Linked DNA regions of Homo sapiens: region 2 is linked to region 1. The links come from fine-mapping of genetic effects on plasma protein levels. A gene starts in region 1. The other region holds a variant in brackets. All regions are shown on one strand. Distances are from middle to middle. Region 1 holds the start of OSMR (oncostatin M receptor). Region 2 overlaps OSMR (oncostatin M receptor).

The links. PIP is the posterior inclusion probability: the model's chance that the variant is causal. Protein levels are from antibody-based Olink assays in UK Biobank. Linkage for the fine-mapping came from a reference panel and not from the study's own genotypes, which makes the PIPs less certain.
Region 2: its variant is fine-mapped to the plasma level of the OSMR protein (UK Biobank, PIP above 0.99).

Annotation. Positions count from the first base shown.
Region 1 is chr5:38,841,759-38,851,777 of GRCh38, forward strand. OSMR (oncostatin M receptor) reads left to right here and starts at 4,254. Exons shown (of 18, transcript NM_003999.3): 1 at 4,254-4,629. It overlaps OSMR-DT (OSMR divergent transcript), which reads right to left and starts at 4,071. Exons shown (of 4, transcript NR_109951.1): 1 at 3,910-4,071.
Region 2 is chr5:38,877,196-38,885,195 of GRCh38, forward strand. OSMR (oncostatin M receptor) reads left to right here. Exons shown (of 18, transcript NM_003999.3): 4 at 4,398-4,569; 5 at 6,632-6,916. Among named protein-coding and RNA genes, the nearest start is that of OSMR, 35 kb to the left of the region's middle. RefSeq lists enhancers at 1,540-2,041, 2,042-2,541. The variant A/C (reference allele first, on the strand shown) is at 4,339.

The DNA of each region.
Region 1 (10,019 bases):
CTTTCCATTGCACAGTGGGCAAATGGACCCAGTTCAGTTCAGTAACAGATGTCCTTTAATTAATCAAGCTTTATGATAAATTTCAGATTAAATTTTTTTTTGGAAGACCTGTTTAGCTTTCCACAAAATAATTATTTCCACAAAATAATTTTAATTTCCAATAACTTTTTTTTAGAAATAAGGCCAATATCACCACCAATAATAATCACAGAGGCACGCGTTAAGGCCTAAAAGTGAATCTTTAAGATGTCAATGTCAGCTGGGCACTGTGGCTCACATCTATAATCCCAGAAATCTGGGAGTCTGAGGTGGGTAAATCACTTGAGCCTAGGAGTTCGAGACCAGCCTGGAGAACATGGCAAAACCCTGTCTCTATAAAACATACAAAAATTAGCCAAGCATGGTGGCGCGTGCCTGTAGTCCCAGCTGCTTGGAGGACTGAGGTGGGAGGATTGCTTGAGCCCAGGAGGCGGAGGTTGCAGCGAGCCGAGACTGCACCACTGCATTCCAGCCTGGGTGACACAGACCCTGTCTCATTTAAAAAGAGTCAAATGTGATAATATGCCAACAAAACAGAATTCTACAGAACTTGTCGATGAGGGTAATTGTAAACCATTATCCACTGCTTAGGTGATGAAGTCACTTTCTTCACAAAATCCCCGATACCTTCAAATTCCATCAGTTGGTAACAAAATGCTGCCATCTTGTAATTATAGCTATTTACAGTAGTGGAATAAATAGAATCATAATTATATTTCACAATTTACATAGCTGATTTCATAGATGTATGTAAACATAGATATAGAGATATAGACAAATATAATGTTCCTGACAGTTATAGAACTATTTTTCCTCTGAGAAGTTAGATAGGTTGGCAATACATTCCACTAATCCCTCCTCCATAATAGTTATACATATGAGACTTTCTGATGGAAGATGGAAGATGAAAGAGGATGGATCGAGAATCATTCCCAGGGTTTTAACTTCAGTGTCCAGAGGACACTAAATGAAGGCTGGCCCATTAACTTAGTAAAGGTTAAAGGCTGGACCATTCACTTAGTATAATAAAATCAAGTGAGCATAACTGAAGTTTGAATTCGGGCATACTAATTTCAAAGTACTGTCTGGAGTGCAGATGAAATCATTGCAATGGAAAGGAAGAGCTGAGAGCCATCAAGGCACAAGTGATCATTGAAATCCTGGATGTGAATATGATTATTCAGGGGGCCCTGGGGCCCTGGGAAACACCAACATGTAGGGGGCAAGTGGAGAACAAGAAGTCCAAAAATATGAGGGAGGAGGAAGTCAGGGAAATGAAAGAAGAATGGAGAGAGTATTGCTACTGAAATCAAAAGGAAGAGAGAACGTCAAGAAAGAGTGTTTAATGGGCCGGGCGCGGTGGCTCACGCCTGTAATCCCAGCACTTTGGGAGGCCAAGGCAGGAGGATCACGAGGTCAGGAGATTGAGGCCACCCTGGCTAACACGGTGAAACCCAGTCTCTACTAAAAATACAAAAAAATTAGCTGGGCGTGGTAGCCGGCGCCTGTAGTTCCAGCTCCTCGGGAGGCTGAGGCAGAATGGTGTGAACCCAGGAGGCGGAGCATGCAGTGAGCTGAGATCGTGCCACTGCACTCCAGCCTGTGTGACAGAGCAAGACTCCGTCTCTAAATAAATAAATAAATAAATAAATTAAAAATAAAAACACACACACAAATAAAAAAATAAAAAGAGTGTTTAACGAAGCAGAATAATATGTGCCTTGGCCACACAATCTTATCAAAACTAAGCAAGGATGGATATTTTAGCTCTTAGCTTAATAAGCCATTGGTATTTTTCATCTTTTTCCTATTAGTTATTTTCAGGATAATTGTTTAAAACTAACTTATGGAACATAACCTATGTATCAGTTTCCTAAGGCTGCCATAACACATTACCACAAACTTGGTGGCTTAAAACAACAGAAATGTATTCTCAATCTGGAGGCCAGAAGTCTGAAATGAAGATGTTGGCAGGGCTAGCTTCTTCTTAGGGGTTCAAAGGGAGCCTGTTCCGTTCCTCTCTCCTAGCTTCTGGTGGTGGTCAGCAACCTTGCCATTCCTTGGCTTGAGTCAGCATAAGCAGGATCTGTCTCAGTGGTCACACAGTGTTCTTTCTGGGTGTCTGTGTCCAAATTCCCCCCTTTTCAGAAGTACAGCAGACACTGGATTAATCTTATATGACCTCAGGTTAACTTGATTAAAGCTGCAAAAACATTATTTCCAAATAAACTGATATTTGGAGGTTTTGGGTGGATCTGACTTTATGGACCCAGTGCACCCACTGTTAAGGGTATAATCGCGAATTTATATGGTGCTACTGCATCTAGATTCTAGAATAACGTATAAATTTAAGAAATTAGAATGGTGCAAAAACAGATAAATTATATGTGGGCACCAAATTTTTACACTTCAGTCTCCTTCAATTGCAATAGGAGCCCAAAATAAGCCTCACTTTTTAGAAATTCATACTGGGCTGAATATTTTTATTTGACATCTCATTTGCTAGAAGAGAGATCCCTTTTAACTGTTTCTATAAAGAATAATTTTTTTTCTCAGTAAAATATAAAATCATAAAGACTTTCCAACTCTTGGGCTTGGCAGTTTCCATAACCATGCAGATGGCTAAACTAATGGACTCTTTAAAACTCTTCAAGTAATGAGAGGTGTGGCAAAGGACCATACATTTATTGAGACAAAAATACATTTTATTATCATCAAATATTTACTATGCATCATGGTCTTTGTGGCCCCATTAGGTATTAAGTGTATTAGGGCCTTTAGGCCTTTGTTTTAGGAAAAATAAAAAAACAAAAGGACTCTCAGCTTTCCTTGGGATGACATTGGGGAGGAGCCAGATATGTGAACAAACACAAAAGTAACATTTTAAAATAATTCTGACATTATTTTGAGTCATCCAGTCAATTCAATATAGGATTCTAAGATATGTTTATGGTCGATACTTGTTGATCACTCTTGGTTCCCTCCCCCACCCCCCTCCTACAACCTTGCTTTTGTGATACTTTCCAGGGTCCCCAAACTCAAACCAAACTAGGCTCAGCTGATCTGGAGCAAGGCCCCTTGCCTGCTGATTTGTCAGGCATCCAGACAGGCGAGGCTATGGGAGCTCCCGGTCCGAGGCTGCCTCGGAAGGCTCCTGTTATCCTCTAAGAGAGGTGAAATGCACCTTTCAAAGGCCCAGACACGGTAAAGATTGGATGGCATTTTTGGCCGGGCGCAGTGGCTGACGCCTGTAATCCCAGCACTTTGGGAGGCTGAGGCGGGCGGATCACGAGGTCAGGAGATCGAGACCATCCTGGCTAACACGGTGAAACCCCGTCTCTACTAAACATAGAAAAATTAGCCAGGCGTGGTGGCGGTCGTCTGTAGTCCCAGCTACTAGGGAGGCTGAGGCAGGAGAATGGTGTGAACCCGGGAGGCGGAGCTTACAGTGAGCCGAGATCGCGCCACTGCACTCCAGCCTGGGTGACACAGTGAGATGCCGTCTCAAAAAAAAAAAAAAAAAAAGGTTGAAGATTGGATGGCATTTTTAAGGGGAAAAGTAAACCATGTGTAGCATGTCGTAGCATTGGGAAATAAAGGTTTCGGGACTGTTGTAGCCGAAGAAACTTTGTCGGACAGGGCGTTTCTGGATAGAACGCGAGTAGGGGAAAAATGGGGACCGTTTGATTCGGTTCAAACACGTTTTCGTTGCTCTGGACGCCAAATGGAAACACGGCCAAAATTTAGTTAAAGGACTTCTCTTGCCTGAAGATTTTCGGACGGGGATCTCACGGGTTTGGCCTCTGGGTTGGGATGACAAGTGCCCCTGTGGGATACACAGCCCCAGGCCTCATCGGTCACTCGGCTTACCTCTGGTTCCGCCGGCTGGCCCGTGCGTCCTTGGCCGGGGCAGGAGCAGCGCTGCGCGCGGGGCACGGAGCCTCGGCCGCCGAGTTTTCGGTTTCCAAGTTTCCTTCCCAGGCCTCTCCCACTTCCTCTTCTCACCAGTGCCCGCCCGCCCGCAAAGTCCGGGTTGTGAGGCTGCGCCTCCCCCAGGATCGCGGCCGCCTCCCCCCGGGACTGAAGGGAGGGAATTCCTGTGGGTCCCAGGAGTGCCAAGAGTGCGCAGCAAGACGGGAAATTGCAAAAGACCTCACCCCTCTGCCCTCCCCCGCGGTTTTCCAGTAACTCCCGCCCCTCCGCGCTTGCCCCGCAGCTGATTCATAGCCCCGGCCCGGGCCGCCTCTGCACGTCCGCCCCGGAGCCCGCACCCGCGCCCCACGCGCCGCCGAGGACTCGGCCCGGCTCGTGGAGCCCTTCGCCCGCGGCGTGAGTACCCCCGACCCGCCCGTCCCCGCTCTGCTCGCGCCCTGCCGCTGCGCCGCCCTCGGTGGCTTTTCCGACGGGCGAGCCCCGTGCTGTGCGGGAAAGAATCCGACAACTTCGCAGCCCATCCCGGCTGGACGCGACCGGGAGTGCAGCAGCCCGTTCCCCTCCTCGGTGCCGCCTCTGCCCAGCGTTTGCTTGGCTGGGCTACCACCTGCGCTCGGACGGCGCTCGGAGGGTCCTCGCCCCCGGCCTGCCTACCTGGTGGGTGAAAACTAAATGATTCATTCCTTACAGGCCGCACAGTGCCGAGTCGCCCATTTCTCAGACTGTTTGAAATTCACCATCCCAGCGCCTTTTTCTCAAATGATGGTGGAATGTTTGTTGAGTGGAAAATTCCCACTTGAATCCCTCTTTCCTCTCTCCCAACACATCGTGTGGAGGAGTTCATTGCTTCCCCTACCTCTCCTCTCGTAACCCTTGACTCCCACCTGAGAGAGCCATTTTTCTGGGAATCCGTGTATCTCTCCCACCTGGTCCCTAGCGTAGAAGCGGGAGGAGCTCAAGCACAGGTGGAGAGAGGAATCCCCGGGCGACTCTGCAATAGCGTCCGTCCGGGGCGCTTACCTTCTTCTCCAGCCACTTGAGTGGAAGTGGCCCTCTACATTCTGGAAACCTAGGCACGGAGGGGTTCAGTAACTTGTCCAAGGCCATATGGCTAGCTGTGAGGGCACTGAAATCCGAGCCCGGCTCTCGCAGGCCAGGGCTTTACCCCTGACACCGCGATTCCTTTCTCGATAGTTCTTCATCTGCCCTTCATCCACCTACCCATGCATGCCTGCATCCGTCCATCCATCCTGCCTGCCTTGCTGCGGGAGGCACAGTGCTAGGTGCTGCTGATGGAGTGGCTTGGTAACAGACCTGCCTTGAAAACACTTTGGGAACAAGATATTCAAGAGAAGTAAATGGAAGGGTCTATGAAGGCAGAGAAGATAGAATTGAATGTAGGATACTTAGTTTGAGCTAGAAGGAATTCTGATGGAGGAGAAAGAAATTTTTAGGTTTTATTCCCAAGATTAAAACTGACTTTGGAACATGGGTCAAACTACTTATCACCTCTTAGTTTCCTTGTCTGCAAATAATAATGGTTCATACTTACTGTGAACCAGCCCCTATTCTAAGCACTTGACATATGCTAGCTCATTTAAGCTTCACGGGTGAGGCGGGTACTAGTTTTTTATTATATTTTATTGAGGAAACTGAGGCCCAAAGAGGTTTTGTAACTTTTCTAGGGTTACACAGCTAGCAGGTGACAGTATCAGGATTTGGGTTTGGAGTCTGCTCATGATCACCGTGCTGTAGCTCAAACTCTAAGACTGGGTGGGGTGTTTCATTATGGTCTTGCTTTGTCTCTCTCCTGGGCTGCTTTAAAATGCACTCAGAGCCCTTGATGTCCCCAAACTCCGCTGTGTCTGAGAATCATTTCTTGAGCTTTCAAAGCATCAAACTCCAAACACAGCCTTCTATTCAGAATCTTCAGGAAATACTCAGTTTGTTTTCCCCGTAGCATTTGTTCAGTGCCTCCAGTGGCAGGAAGCTCACCACCTCACATTTTATTGTAGGAAGAGCTAGTTCTCTGCTGTAAATTGCCTCCTTGTGACTTACATCTTGGTCCCAGTTCCCGTTTGTCCCAGCAGGTGTGGCTAAGCCTTTTGTATCAAAGGTGGCTTTGAGAGAAAAAGGCTGGTCTTGGGTGTTTCTTCCGCAGGGACCCGAGCCGCATTGGGGAGAACACATAAACACTGGTTCTTTCCCCCTCTACCCTTTTCTTTAACCTGAACAGACCAGGAACACATGCAGAGGTGTTCCTGGATCTCTCATGTTTTTGTAACCCTTTTGTCCTGAGGACAAAACCGAATCAGGAGAACTGTTACGGTTTTCAAAGGGGAATCAGTGGTACTGTATTTAACAAGAAGAAGGTGTGTATTTTCCTTGTGGGAAAGGACTGGGGCATTCATTGGCTGCAGTAGAAGAGAATCTTAGTGAGTGTGGTCTTGCTCACTTACAGGAACTGTGAGCCTTGGCCCTCCTTTCGCTGGGGGAGAAAATCCTTCTTGATTGCTTAAAAAATGTGTAAAATGGGGGGAAAAAAACCCAAACCAAAACAAATAGAATATCATGGCCTTGCTGGAGAAATCCCCTCCTCCAAGCAGGCTTCTTTGTAGCTACATGAAGAGAGAATTTCTTTTCCAACAGCTGTGTTGGTGGCTTCATAGCCTTCCTTCCCTCCTCATTTTAGTTGTACTGGTCGCTCTGCATTTGTGCACTCCACGTTGTATTCTATTTTTGTGTTTTAAAAATAATACAAATAATAACAACTCATTCTCACTCAATATAGAAGTGAAGTGAAATGTAGACGTGCCATCACCATCCTCCCTCCTCCCACTCAGAAGAGGGAAGGTTAAGTTTGATAATACCATTCTAAGGCTTGTTTTTCTTTTCTATAGTTTTACATAATACATACATATACATATGTTTTAAATATGCAAATTATCTTACTATACTTATTGTACAGCTTGCTTTTTCACTTTCCAAGTCTTAGAGATCTTTCCATTGTCTCTAGATACCTCTTTTGTTAATGGCTACGTGTTATTCTTTTTGTGTGTGTGTGAGATGGTCTCACTCTGTCACACAGGCAGAAGTGCAGTGTCATGATCATGGCTCACTGCAGCCTCGACCTTCTGGGCTCAAGTGATCCTCCCACCTCAGCCTCCTGAGAAGCTGGAACTACAGGCACATGACACCACACCTGACTTTTTTTTTTTTGTATTTTTTGTAAAGATTGGGTCTCTCCATGATGCCCAGACTGGTCTTGAACTCCTGGGTTCAAGCAGTCCACCTGCCTTGGCCTCCCACAGTGCTAGGATTACAGGCGTGAGCCACTGCGCCCGGCCAGCTACATGTTATCCTAAAGTAGAAATAGAATGTAATTTATCCATCCTTTCCTATATTGATGGACATTCAGCATTAGCAACGTTGCTTCAGAGCAGATCACACATTCATCTTCCTGCTCAAGTGTGAGTATTTCTGTGGAAGAGAATCTGAGGAGAGGTATTCCTGTGTCAAAGGGTTTGCCCCTTTTTCCACTTGATAGATACGAAGTGGAAGGTAACGATGTAACTTAATATTTTTGTAAAGTTTTAGACAGCTGATCCAATAGCATTTATTTAATAATTCATCTTTTTTCCAACTCATTTGAAATTCTGTTTTTATCATTAAATAAATTCCTGTTTGTAAAAGGGTCTGTGTCAGGATTCTATTCTGTTTCATTGATCTTTTTTTTTGTTTGTTTTTCCCTAAACCAATATTACTCTGAGTTAACTACTGTAGCTTTATAGTGTTTTTGAAAATCTTGTGGTATATATTTGTGCTTTTTAAAACAACTTTTTTTATAAATCACATACATTTTCTCTTTACAAATAGCCTGTCAAGTTTAATAAAATCCTATTTTTAATTAAGATTTTATTGAGTTTATAATTGTTAGCAATTTTTAATGCTTTAATGTCCACTTTGGTATGAGCTCCAAGCTTTAAGGAAACTGTGTCATGTGAACTTTGGTTAATGACTTATCTGATTTCAAATATTGGCTACACATCAGATTAACTGGGTCAGTTTGGATAAATTACTTGTCAACTTTCTTATCCTTAATTTCCTCCTCTGTGAATGGGAATAATAATATAATCCTTTTCTTAGCGCTGTTGTGAGGATTCAATTAATAAATGCATGTACGTCACTTAGCAAAGCACCTTGTAGAGAGTTAGTATCTTATACATGCTAGCTGGGATCTTTTTCATATTTATATCCTACTCATGGTTTTGCAGAGTGCCCTATTGGTAATAGGAACCAGTAAATATTTCCTTTATTTATTGGTAGTATCCTAAGAGACAAAAATATATCATATATTTTAAATATAGTAGTGTTTCTCAAACTTGAATGTGCATATGAATCACCTGAGGATATTATTTAAATGCAGATTCAAGAGGTCTAAGGTCTGGCCTGAGATTTTGCATTTCTGACAAGCTACCAGGTGATGTCAATACTGCTGGTCCTTTGTCCACATTTGGGTGTACAGTCTTGTACAACTATTTAAATTTATGCTGCTAGTGATAGTACTTCCTATTTGTAATGAATATGATTGAAAGCATTTTTAAATTGATTTCTTTTAAAATTACATGCTAAAGAACTAAATTATAGTTGTTTTCCTTTCTTCCTTCTTCTCTCCCTCTCTTCCTTTATTTTTGTTAAAAGAAAGAGGGTTGGTGAGATCGCTAAATAGAATACCTAGCTCTGTTCTTAGATCTAGAGTCATTGAGGCAATTAACTATCTGGATTATTTTAAACTGTTGACTTAAGATGAAGACAGTCATATAAAATATATGCAGCCTGAATATGACATTTAATGTCAACTAAAGAAAAGCACAATTGTAAGTGGCTTCTGCAAATAGAAAAATGTAAGACATAAAGAACACTTGGAAAAATGTAAGACAAAATAATTCTCAGAAAAGAGTGATTGAGGTTTCATTGTTCATGTGTAATGCCAGCTTTTGAGAAGATGTGCATCAACAGAAGTTACGCTTTCTTGTGAGTAAATTTTTCATACACCGTGGTATTTCTTGGTCACCTCTTTCTACTTTCAATCTCCCTAATGGGGGATTTTGAGCAAATTTACTTCATATATATACTTCAGTGTGTCTGTCTGTCAGCCGGGGATGGTAGTATGATTTTTCTACTCAGGACACTGGTTACTTTTTGCATTTGGAAATAGATCATTAAAGTATCTACACTCTCTCAGAACCTAAGAGGTTACATTTTCTGTACAGAAAAACACGGCATCCTCCCAGGCTGATCCAGTAGGTAAAAACTGCCAACCTTTTTCAAGTCTGTTCAATACCATGGGTTGGACTGGAAACACAAACACTGTCAACTAGTTTAATCATGTTGGGATATATGGTTTCAAGTGTGGAAATAAGGAAATTGCCACTTGCACAAGACTGAGCTTAATATGTTTAAAACATGCACACACACACGTTTTAAGGAATGCTTTATGTTGCAGAACTGTATAACTTAAAGTGAGTTATCTATAATTTCTCTTATTCTGCCCACCTCCCTCCCTCCATCTCAGCTCTAAATTTATAACTTAGTAAGTGGGTGTGTCTTTGGGGCTGGTTTGGATCCCTCAAGTAGAAGAGAGCAAGCCAGAAACACATGTGCAAGAGATTTACTGGGGGAAGGACTTGTAAGGGGAAAGGGAGTAACTGTAGGCACAGAGCCTTCAGACCCAGTGCAGGTGTGATGCCTGTGGAAGGAGATGGGGAGGAAGGAAGGTGGGAAGGAGTTGCTTCCAGCTGCAGCCATTGGGTGGGAGCAGCCTGGGGTGTGTGAATCTTCCACAGATCTGAAGGGGCAGTGTCTGAAGGCTGTCAGTCATCTACGCTCTCTTGAAGGGAGCACTGAGGGGCACAGCTGCACACTGCCACAGTTCTCTTTCAGAGATGTTCTTAGGTATATACTGTTTTGAAACTGACTTATTCACTGATGTGGTTTGGCTGTGTCCCCACCCAAATCTCATCTTGAACTGTAGCTCCCATAATTCC
Region 2 (8,000 bases), 34 kb after region 1:
AGCCTAGGACTGTGCTTGGGCCCTCTGTCAGCTCAACCAGGCTCCTGTCTTCACCCAGGTAGTGGAGGCTTTGGGTACACACATACAGCATGGTTAGTTCCTTTGGTAAGGCATACAAGTCACTAATTTTAACATCTTCAGTTACTTTCCATATTCATTATTGAAATTTGAGATCTGCGCAAGTTAAATAAAATTTTGACTCTGTCCACTTAGGATTCATACCTAGTCTATAATTCTACCTCTCAAAGGGCAGTTTCCCACAATGAGACTTATTTAGTATGATGATTTTCAACAACAGCAATACTTCTGTGTAGCTGTTTACTCCCTGCTATCAACACATCTTTCCACTATCTCACCTTATACTAGCAAGTCTGATTTTTGTATTTTTAATGGGTACACTTGTTGGTAATTTGGGCCCGGTAAAACATTGAAGCAAAGGTCATATTGAGACTAAGGATTATCTACAAAAAGAAAAATTGAGGTGGAAGTGCTGGAGGAATTGTGGAAAACTAGCACTTAGCACCGTTAGCAAAAATAACATTAACCATAGACTACATGGATCCTATTCTTTATTTTTCCAAAAGACAACTCATATCTATTATTATGTTACAAAAAATAATATTAGCCATACACCAAGTGGATTTTTTTATTTATTTTCCTAAAAAGCAGTTGTTCATATCTGTTTTCATATTTGATTCCCGTAAGAGTCCTCTTTTCAAGGGAAAGCAGCTAGTGTGGACTATTTCTGTAATCTTCTAGGGCTCAAGACCCTTCAGGGTAGAGTTTTGCCTTGTCTATCGTGTTGTCCTCACAACACCCAACCCAGCCTGACTACAACAGTGGAGAAACCACAGCACAGAGAGGTTTGTTGTGTTGCTCCAGGTGACAGAGGCAGGGTGGGATCATCCTTCACTCCTGTGCCCAGAAAGGGATGACAGTCACATGCAGCCCCCAGGCCATCGGTGGACACATGTCCTATGGAATAGATGATGCCTTGAGAAATGCTTGTCTGAATCACTCATGCCTGAAGTTGACGAGAACTATCCTCCTCCAGTTAAGGAGGAGGATGCTGCTTCTGTTTAGACCAAAATCTCCCTTATACAGGGAAGCTCCCTGTAGTGCAAGCCTGACAGGGCACTCTCATTCATGCTGGGGGCTGGGGGGAAGCTTCTGGACTCAATGTCTCGGACACCTCTGTTCCCAAACAAGTCAAAGGAAGAGCACTTGCAGCTGGACCAGAGGCACCGACCTGTCTCCTGGATGGTACTGGCCATTTGGAACCCTGAACTGCATGGTCCTGCCCTCCTGGGTCATGGTCCTCCCCTTCCCTTTGCTTTTTGATTTTGTCAATGGCATAGGAAGGCAAAGTAGAGTAAGAGCTCAAGCTTGGAAGGAGGCCAGGTGTGGGAGTCAAATGTCTCAGTAACAAATCAGTGACCTCTATTAGACTTCTGTGTAAATGTGTGTGCCAATTTCTTGTGACTTACTGATGTCTGCAAGGATCAAATTAAACCTGCCACTTCAATAAATGAAATGACCCAAAGACAATTCATCATATTTAAAGAAAAAAAATCAATGAATTGCAGTACTTAAGGAAAAGTTTTATCTCCTACATTAACAGGGCTGTAAAGACCACAAAGCAGAAGTTGAGGTTAAACAGGTTCCACACATAAATAGTGTCTGGGGGAAATACAACTCATTGCATATTAATGAAATGATTAAATCATTCAGTCCAGAGTTTTAGCCTGTGCTCCCAGATCAGGCATTGTGCGCAGTGTGGGAATGTCAGCGCTGAGCACACTGGAAAGAATGAGGAGGTGAACACACGCATAGGGTATTCTACACACGGGCTGTGTGTGCAGGTCACTGATGAGATGCTATGAGGTTCGGGTTAGGCCTCACCTTCTCCCACAATTTGGATAAAGGGCTGTTTGAGACCAAATATCCAAGAGGATAGAAGTTACTTTAGCAAGTAGAGTAGAAAAGAGTGCTCTGAGCAGGCCCAACAGGCATGAGCAGAGGCGCTGAGAGAAGGGAATTTCCAGGCCTGAAAGCCCGCTGTGGTGCTGGATCCCCAAGCACATGAGGACAGGGGCACAGGCCTAGATGCACAGGACCATGGAGTGCATGCTCAGGTTTTGTTTTTTTATCCCAAGGGCAATAAGAACAAAGGAAGTGGCAAGCTCTGATTTGAATAGCCGCACAGCGGAATGTGGTGGGGAACTGGGGCAAGGGATGTGTGGCCGCTAGGAAGCGAGCTGTAGGGTTCAGCCAAAGCGGAGATGCGGGTAAGAGAAGTGGCTGCATTTAAGGGACAGAAGGGAGGTAAAGTTCAGTCTGTGACTTGTTGGCATTAGAGCGAAGTTGCCATTATTGATGTACTTCCTTCTAGCAGGGGTCTGGGGGAAGAGAGGAAATATTTGCTCCTTTTTTTTTTTTTTTTTTTGAGATGGAGTCTCACTCTGTTGCCCAGGGTGGAGTGCAGTGGCGCAATCCCAGCTCACTGCAACCTCCGTCTTCCGGGTTCTAGCGATTCTTCTGCCTCAGCATCTTGAGTTGCTGGGATTACAGGCACGCACTACCACATCCGGCTAATTTTTGTATTTTTAGTAGAAATGGGGTTTCACCATGTTGGTCAGACCGGTCTCAAACTCCTGACCTCATGATCTGCCTGCCTTGGCCTCCCAAAGTCCTGGGATATTTGCTCTTAAATTTTAAAAATATTTAAGCAAAATGTACTTGACATTGCTCATGTTAAATAGTGAGGGTTTCATGGATCAGGACCTCACAACTTGTTAAGGAACATATTTTGTGATCTAGGAGTAAAGTAATGCAAGAAATGGAAATAAAATATAAACATTTAAAAAAACACAGTCTGCAGAGAGTGAGAAAGGAAGCCCACAATTAAATGCCCCCTGGGTGGACCAGGATGTTTTCAGCCCAGGGCTGGGTTTAATTCTGTCAGGGGCACTGTTTCAAGTTTGTGACCTGAATAGGGGGCAGACATAATTAGTAGAAGGCATCCGAGTTGCTAACGCCAAGCAGTGTGTGACATGTGACTTGTCCCATCCCCTTCACTGAGGACTTATTATTCGCCCTTAGAAACATGGATGCAGACTCGAACTCAGGTTCCCCCAGTAAGTGTCATGTGTGTGTTGTCTCCACCTTGCAGCTGTGGGGCAGGAAACAGGAGCGTTGGAGGAGGCACACTGAGGAGAAAGCATGCCTGGAGCTTTGGGGGACATGAAGAAGAGAACGTGGTTCCTGCTCCCTCGGGACCATGCTAGAGTCACAGCTGATATACCAACAGCTAGCCGCAGTATATAGGAGGGGCTCAGAAGGGGTGGAGACAAGAGGAATGCAGAGGAAAGAGCAAGAAAGCCTTCATGAAAGAGAAGGGACATAACCTAGGCTTGAAGAACAGGACAGATCCCCATACAGCAGGGAGTGGAAGACACCAAACCAAAGACATTGCCTGAGCAAAGACAGGTCTGAAAGCATAAGGCATATCCAGAAGTGTGGGGGAGGTGCTATGTTTGGAGAGACGATTCCTGCAAGGGACTGGTGGGTTGGAGCCAGATTATAGAAGGCCTTGCATGACAGGGCAAGGTGTAAACGGGCCTTTGAAGCCTGTGGAATTAGAGAATGGAAATGCCAGCATCTCAGAAAGATGAAGGCTAAAGGCTGTGTCAAAAGCCCAAATTACAGCTCAACTTAGACAAGCTTCCTAGAAAACAGTGTAAGACATTTTGTGTCACTGACAGCTTCAGGGCCTAAGAGTCTGACAGATGGAGCCCAAGAGATGGAGTGTGGCCATGTGGCCACCGTATCTGAAAGGACAAGAGACAGAAAACCAGGGGAGACTCAGAGAGCCATCTATCAACTTCCGAGAGAAAATGGAACTTCTGGTGTGCCATGAAAGACTGCTTTCTTGACTGAGATTTGACCATCCTAATCCAAACCTTGCTAAAGATGAATATTTTTTAAAAACAAACAATCTTTTTTTTTTTTTAAAGGATGACTGTGTTAATTCTCTACTTTTCAAGAACTTTCTTAGCAGATTCTCTGGGACTGGCACAGTGAGCACCTTCTGTCTCTGATCTGTTCCCCCAAGACCTGAGTAGCTTCTGTTTTCTCTCCCGCTTATTCCACATGAGTCCCCGGGAATTGGAAGACCATAGTGATTGGAAGCTGAGTTTTCAAAAGGCAGGAGGTCATAGCTGGCTCCCATGCGAGGCATCAGAACATGGGGAATTGACTAGCAGAAGTGGAATTCACTGGCACATATCGTGGACCTGCAATGGGGTCTTAGGTTTGTGCTTTGGGATAAGTCAAGTC[A/C]AGCTATTTTATAGGACAAGATGGCTATGTGTCTCCAATTGTTTTCTCTTTGCTTTTAGGGGAATTACAGCACCACTGTGAAGTGGAACCAGGTTCTGCATTGGAGCTGGGAATCTGAGCTCCCTTTGGAATGTGCCACACACTTTGTAAGAATAAAGAGTTTGGTGGACGATGCCAAGTTCCCTGAGCCAAATTTCTGGAGCAACTGGAGTTCCTGGGAGGAAGTCAGTGGTAAGAAGTGAGGTGGTTACAAGAGTGAAAAGGGTTAATATATTTTTTAATGAGGAGCAATAGTCAAATAGTGGAAATCTCCTTTGAGGAACCCTGGGTAGACACTGACATTATTTTCCTTTGGCTCCTATGGGAACTAAAAAACACAGGTGTGAAACTTGGCACTGGAAGATATAGTCTGAAGTCTTGCTCCTGAACTTACTCATTGAGATAGTTGTGCAGATTCAGGCAATTTTGTATTTGTTTTCAAAACATGTAAAGTTTGTGTATTATAAATGCTAAGTGAACAAAGCAAGACATAAATTGTACATATGTATTTATTTGAGCAACACAAAATGTGTATGCGTCTAGAGTAGAGGTTGGGAACATTTTTCTGTGAAAGGCCAGATAAGAGATAGTATAAGCTTTTCAGAGCATACAGTCGCTGTTGTGACTATTCAACTCTGCTACTGTAGTGTGAGAGCAGCCATAGATAGTGTGTAAACCAATGAGACAGCTTTGTTGATAGAAATTTATTTACAGAAACAGGGCCAGGCATGGTGGCTCACTCCTGTAATCTCAGCACTTTGGGAGGCCAAGGCGGGTGGATCACTTGAGGTCAGGAGTTCAAGACCAGCCTGGGAAACATGGTGAAATCCTGTCTCTACTAAAAATATAAAAATTAGCTGGGCATGGTGACGGGCACCTGTAGTCCCAGCTATTCTGGAGGCTGAGGCAGGAGAATCGCTTGAACCCAGGAGGCAGAGGTTGCAGTGAGCCTAGATTACACCACTGTACTCCAGCCTGGGCCACAGGGCAAGATTCTGTCTCTCACACACACACCAAAAAAACAACAGATGGTGGACTCAAATTGTAGCTCCCCCGAATCTAGACGGCGGGGTGGGGGGAAGGGGGGTGGAATATGGAAAAATGAAAGTGGTGTGTTATTTGAAAAATGAGATTATTTGCGCACGTTAAACTAATAATACTAATGAGATAATAATAATTGAATTAAATCTATGACCTAGTCACTTTTTAAAGTACTATACATATTTAGTTCTCATGTCAGTCCTATAAAAGGACTTCTTATCCTCGCTTCACAGATAAGGAAACTGAGGCACTGAGAGGTTAAAGAAGCCATGCAAGGTCACCACGCCACTAAGTGCTGGAGCTGGAACTCCAACCCAGACAGTCTGGCTCCAGAGGTCATGTGCTTAACTATTACATCCTACTATGGAAAGAAGGACACATACACAGGGAAAGAAAAGATATTAAAAAGATAGTAAGAGGTTGGGTGTGGTGGCTCACATCTGTAATTCTAGTACTTTGGGAGGCTGAGGTGGGCGGATTGCCTGAGCTCAGGAGTTTGAGACCAGCCTGCACAACATGGCGAAGCCCCAGCTCTACTAAAAATACAAAAAATCAGCTGGGTGTGGTGGCACATGCCTGTAGTCCCAGCTACTCAGGAGGCTGAGGCACAAGAATTGCTTGAAGGTTGGATTTTTTAAAAACTTTTAAAAATGAATGTTTTAAAGACCCCTCACACTTGAGGGACTCGCATTTCTGAGAAGGTAGGGAGAGATATGATCTCCAGTACAATGAAGAGATTACGAGGGATTTTGGAGATGCATAGACCTTGCCAGTCTGAATGTGGCTTTGCCACTTTCTAACTGAGCAAACTTTGGCTAAGTCTTACCTGACCTGTTGTTGTAAGGTACTAAGAACGACATGAGATAATGTACATAAACACTTAACATGGCCTTCAGCAGGGCTGGGACTTGATAGAAAGCAGTTACAATAACCCAGCAATAGCAATCATGCAATTATCAGAGTGGTAATAGTAATGTGCTGTCTGTGGCAGTAAGAGCAACAGCAGTGGTATCAGTGTAACAATAGGAGCAGTGGTGGAAAGGATTGTCTTGCATGCACCAGAGGGTAGAGGTTTGGCAGAGAAATTTAGGTTGCTATTTTCTCCAGGAGGTAGAAAAAGCTAAAGTTATCTGCTGAAGGCAAATGGATAACTTGTTTTAAGAGGCTTGAATTTTGAGTGCGATTCTAACTTGGCTATTTTTTTTTCTTGCAGTACAAGATTCTACTGGACAGGATATATTGTTCGTTTTCCCTAAAGATAAGCTGGTGGAAGAAGGCACCAATGTTACCATTTGTTACGTTTCTAGGAACATTCAAAATAATGTATCCTGTTATTTGGAAGGGAAACAGATTCATGGAGAACAACTTGATCCACATGTAACTGCATTCAACTTGAATAGTGTGCCTTTCATTAGGAATAAAGGGACAAATATCTATTGTGAGGCAAGTCAAGGAAATGTCAGTGAAGGCATGAAAGGCATCGTTCTTTTTGTCTCAAGTAAGTGTGCAAATTCTCTGTGGCCCTTTCTTCTCATTTCCTGAGGAATAGATTAAATCTCCTTTACTAGAAGACAAATAAACATTTCTACCCATGATCTTGATTTTCTTTTGTTTCCCAAGTTTTCTAGGAGAGGCTCTGAAGTCGATGTCCTTTAGTAATATTTCCAGGATTTCCTGTTGTTTTCTTGTCCTTACTGAGAGTTGTATTCCTAGAAATCAATAGTATTAAAGAAGACACAGTTCAGGTCATGACCTGGACCACTGGGAAAATACCCTTTTTTGCCCAGCCATGCTGGAATTACTTCGGGATCATGGAGGGAGGGTAGGAGCTACAGATTGGACAACCATGGAGTCAGCCAGGATTGTGGCCTAGGAGACCTGGGTTTGAATCTTCTTTCCCTGGCTGGGTGTGTCATCTCGCCAAGTTTCCTAGCCTCTCTGAGCCAGTTTCCTCCTTTGTAAAATGGGGACAGTGATGGTGATTGTGAGGATTAATGAATGTGGGTAGTGCCTAGCCCCAGTAATAGCTGCATGCAGTAGGAGATCAGCAAATGGAGGCCATTACTGTTCTTAACTGTGCAGTAAATTGGTTCCATCGGATACATTAGTGGAGTGGGAACATTTTTTTATATAGGTTTGTGTGTGCACAACTAGTGGCCTCCTGTATTTTGAGCATCTCCTTCCCTTGCACAGTAGGGAACATCTCCCTCCCTGCCTCCCTTGCCAAAGTCAGTCTCCAGTCTCCTGGATGCCTGGTTCATCTATGTCCCCTTAGCATGACCACTAAGGGCAGCAGTAACGCTGGGGATTTGGAGGTGCTTTGCCATTCCCTGAACACTCAGCTCCTGCCTGTTGAATTTAGCAGGTGTACAAATCTGACTGATTTCCTTGCATCCCCGAAGCATTCTGTGAGCCACAGCACCCGAAATGAAACATTGGCAGGCACTGGGGATACAACCCTTGTCAAATGGACATAGCATCAGCCACTTGCATAACATGGACCATCCATGCCCATGACATCTCAGAAAATCACAAGGGCAGGAAGGAGAAGGGGCCAAGATGAGGTGACCCCTGAAAAGTGA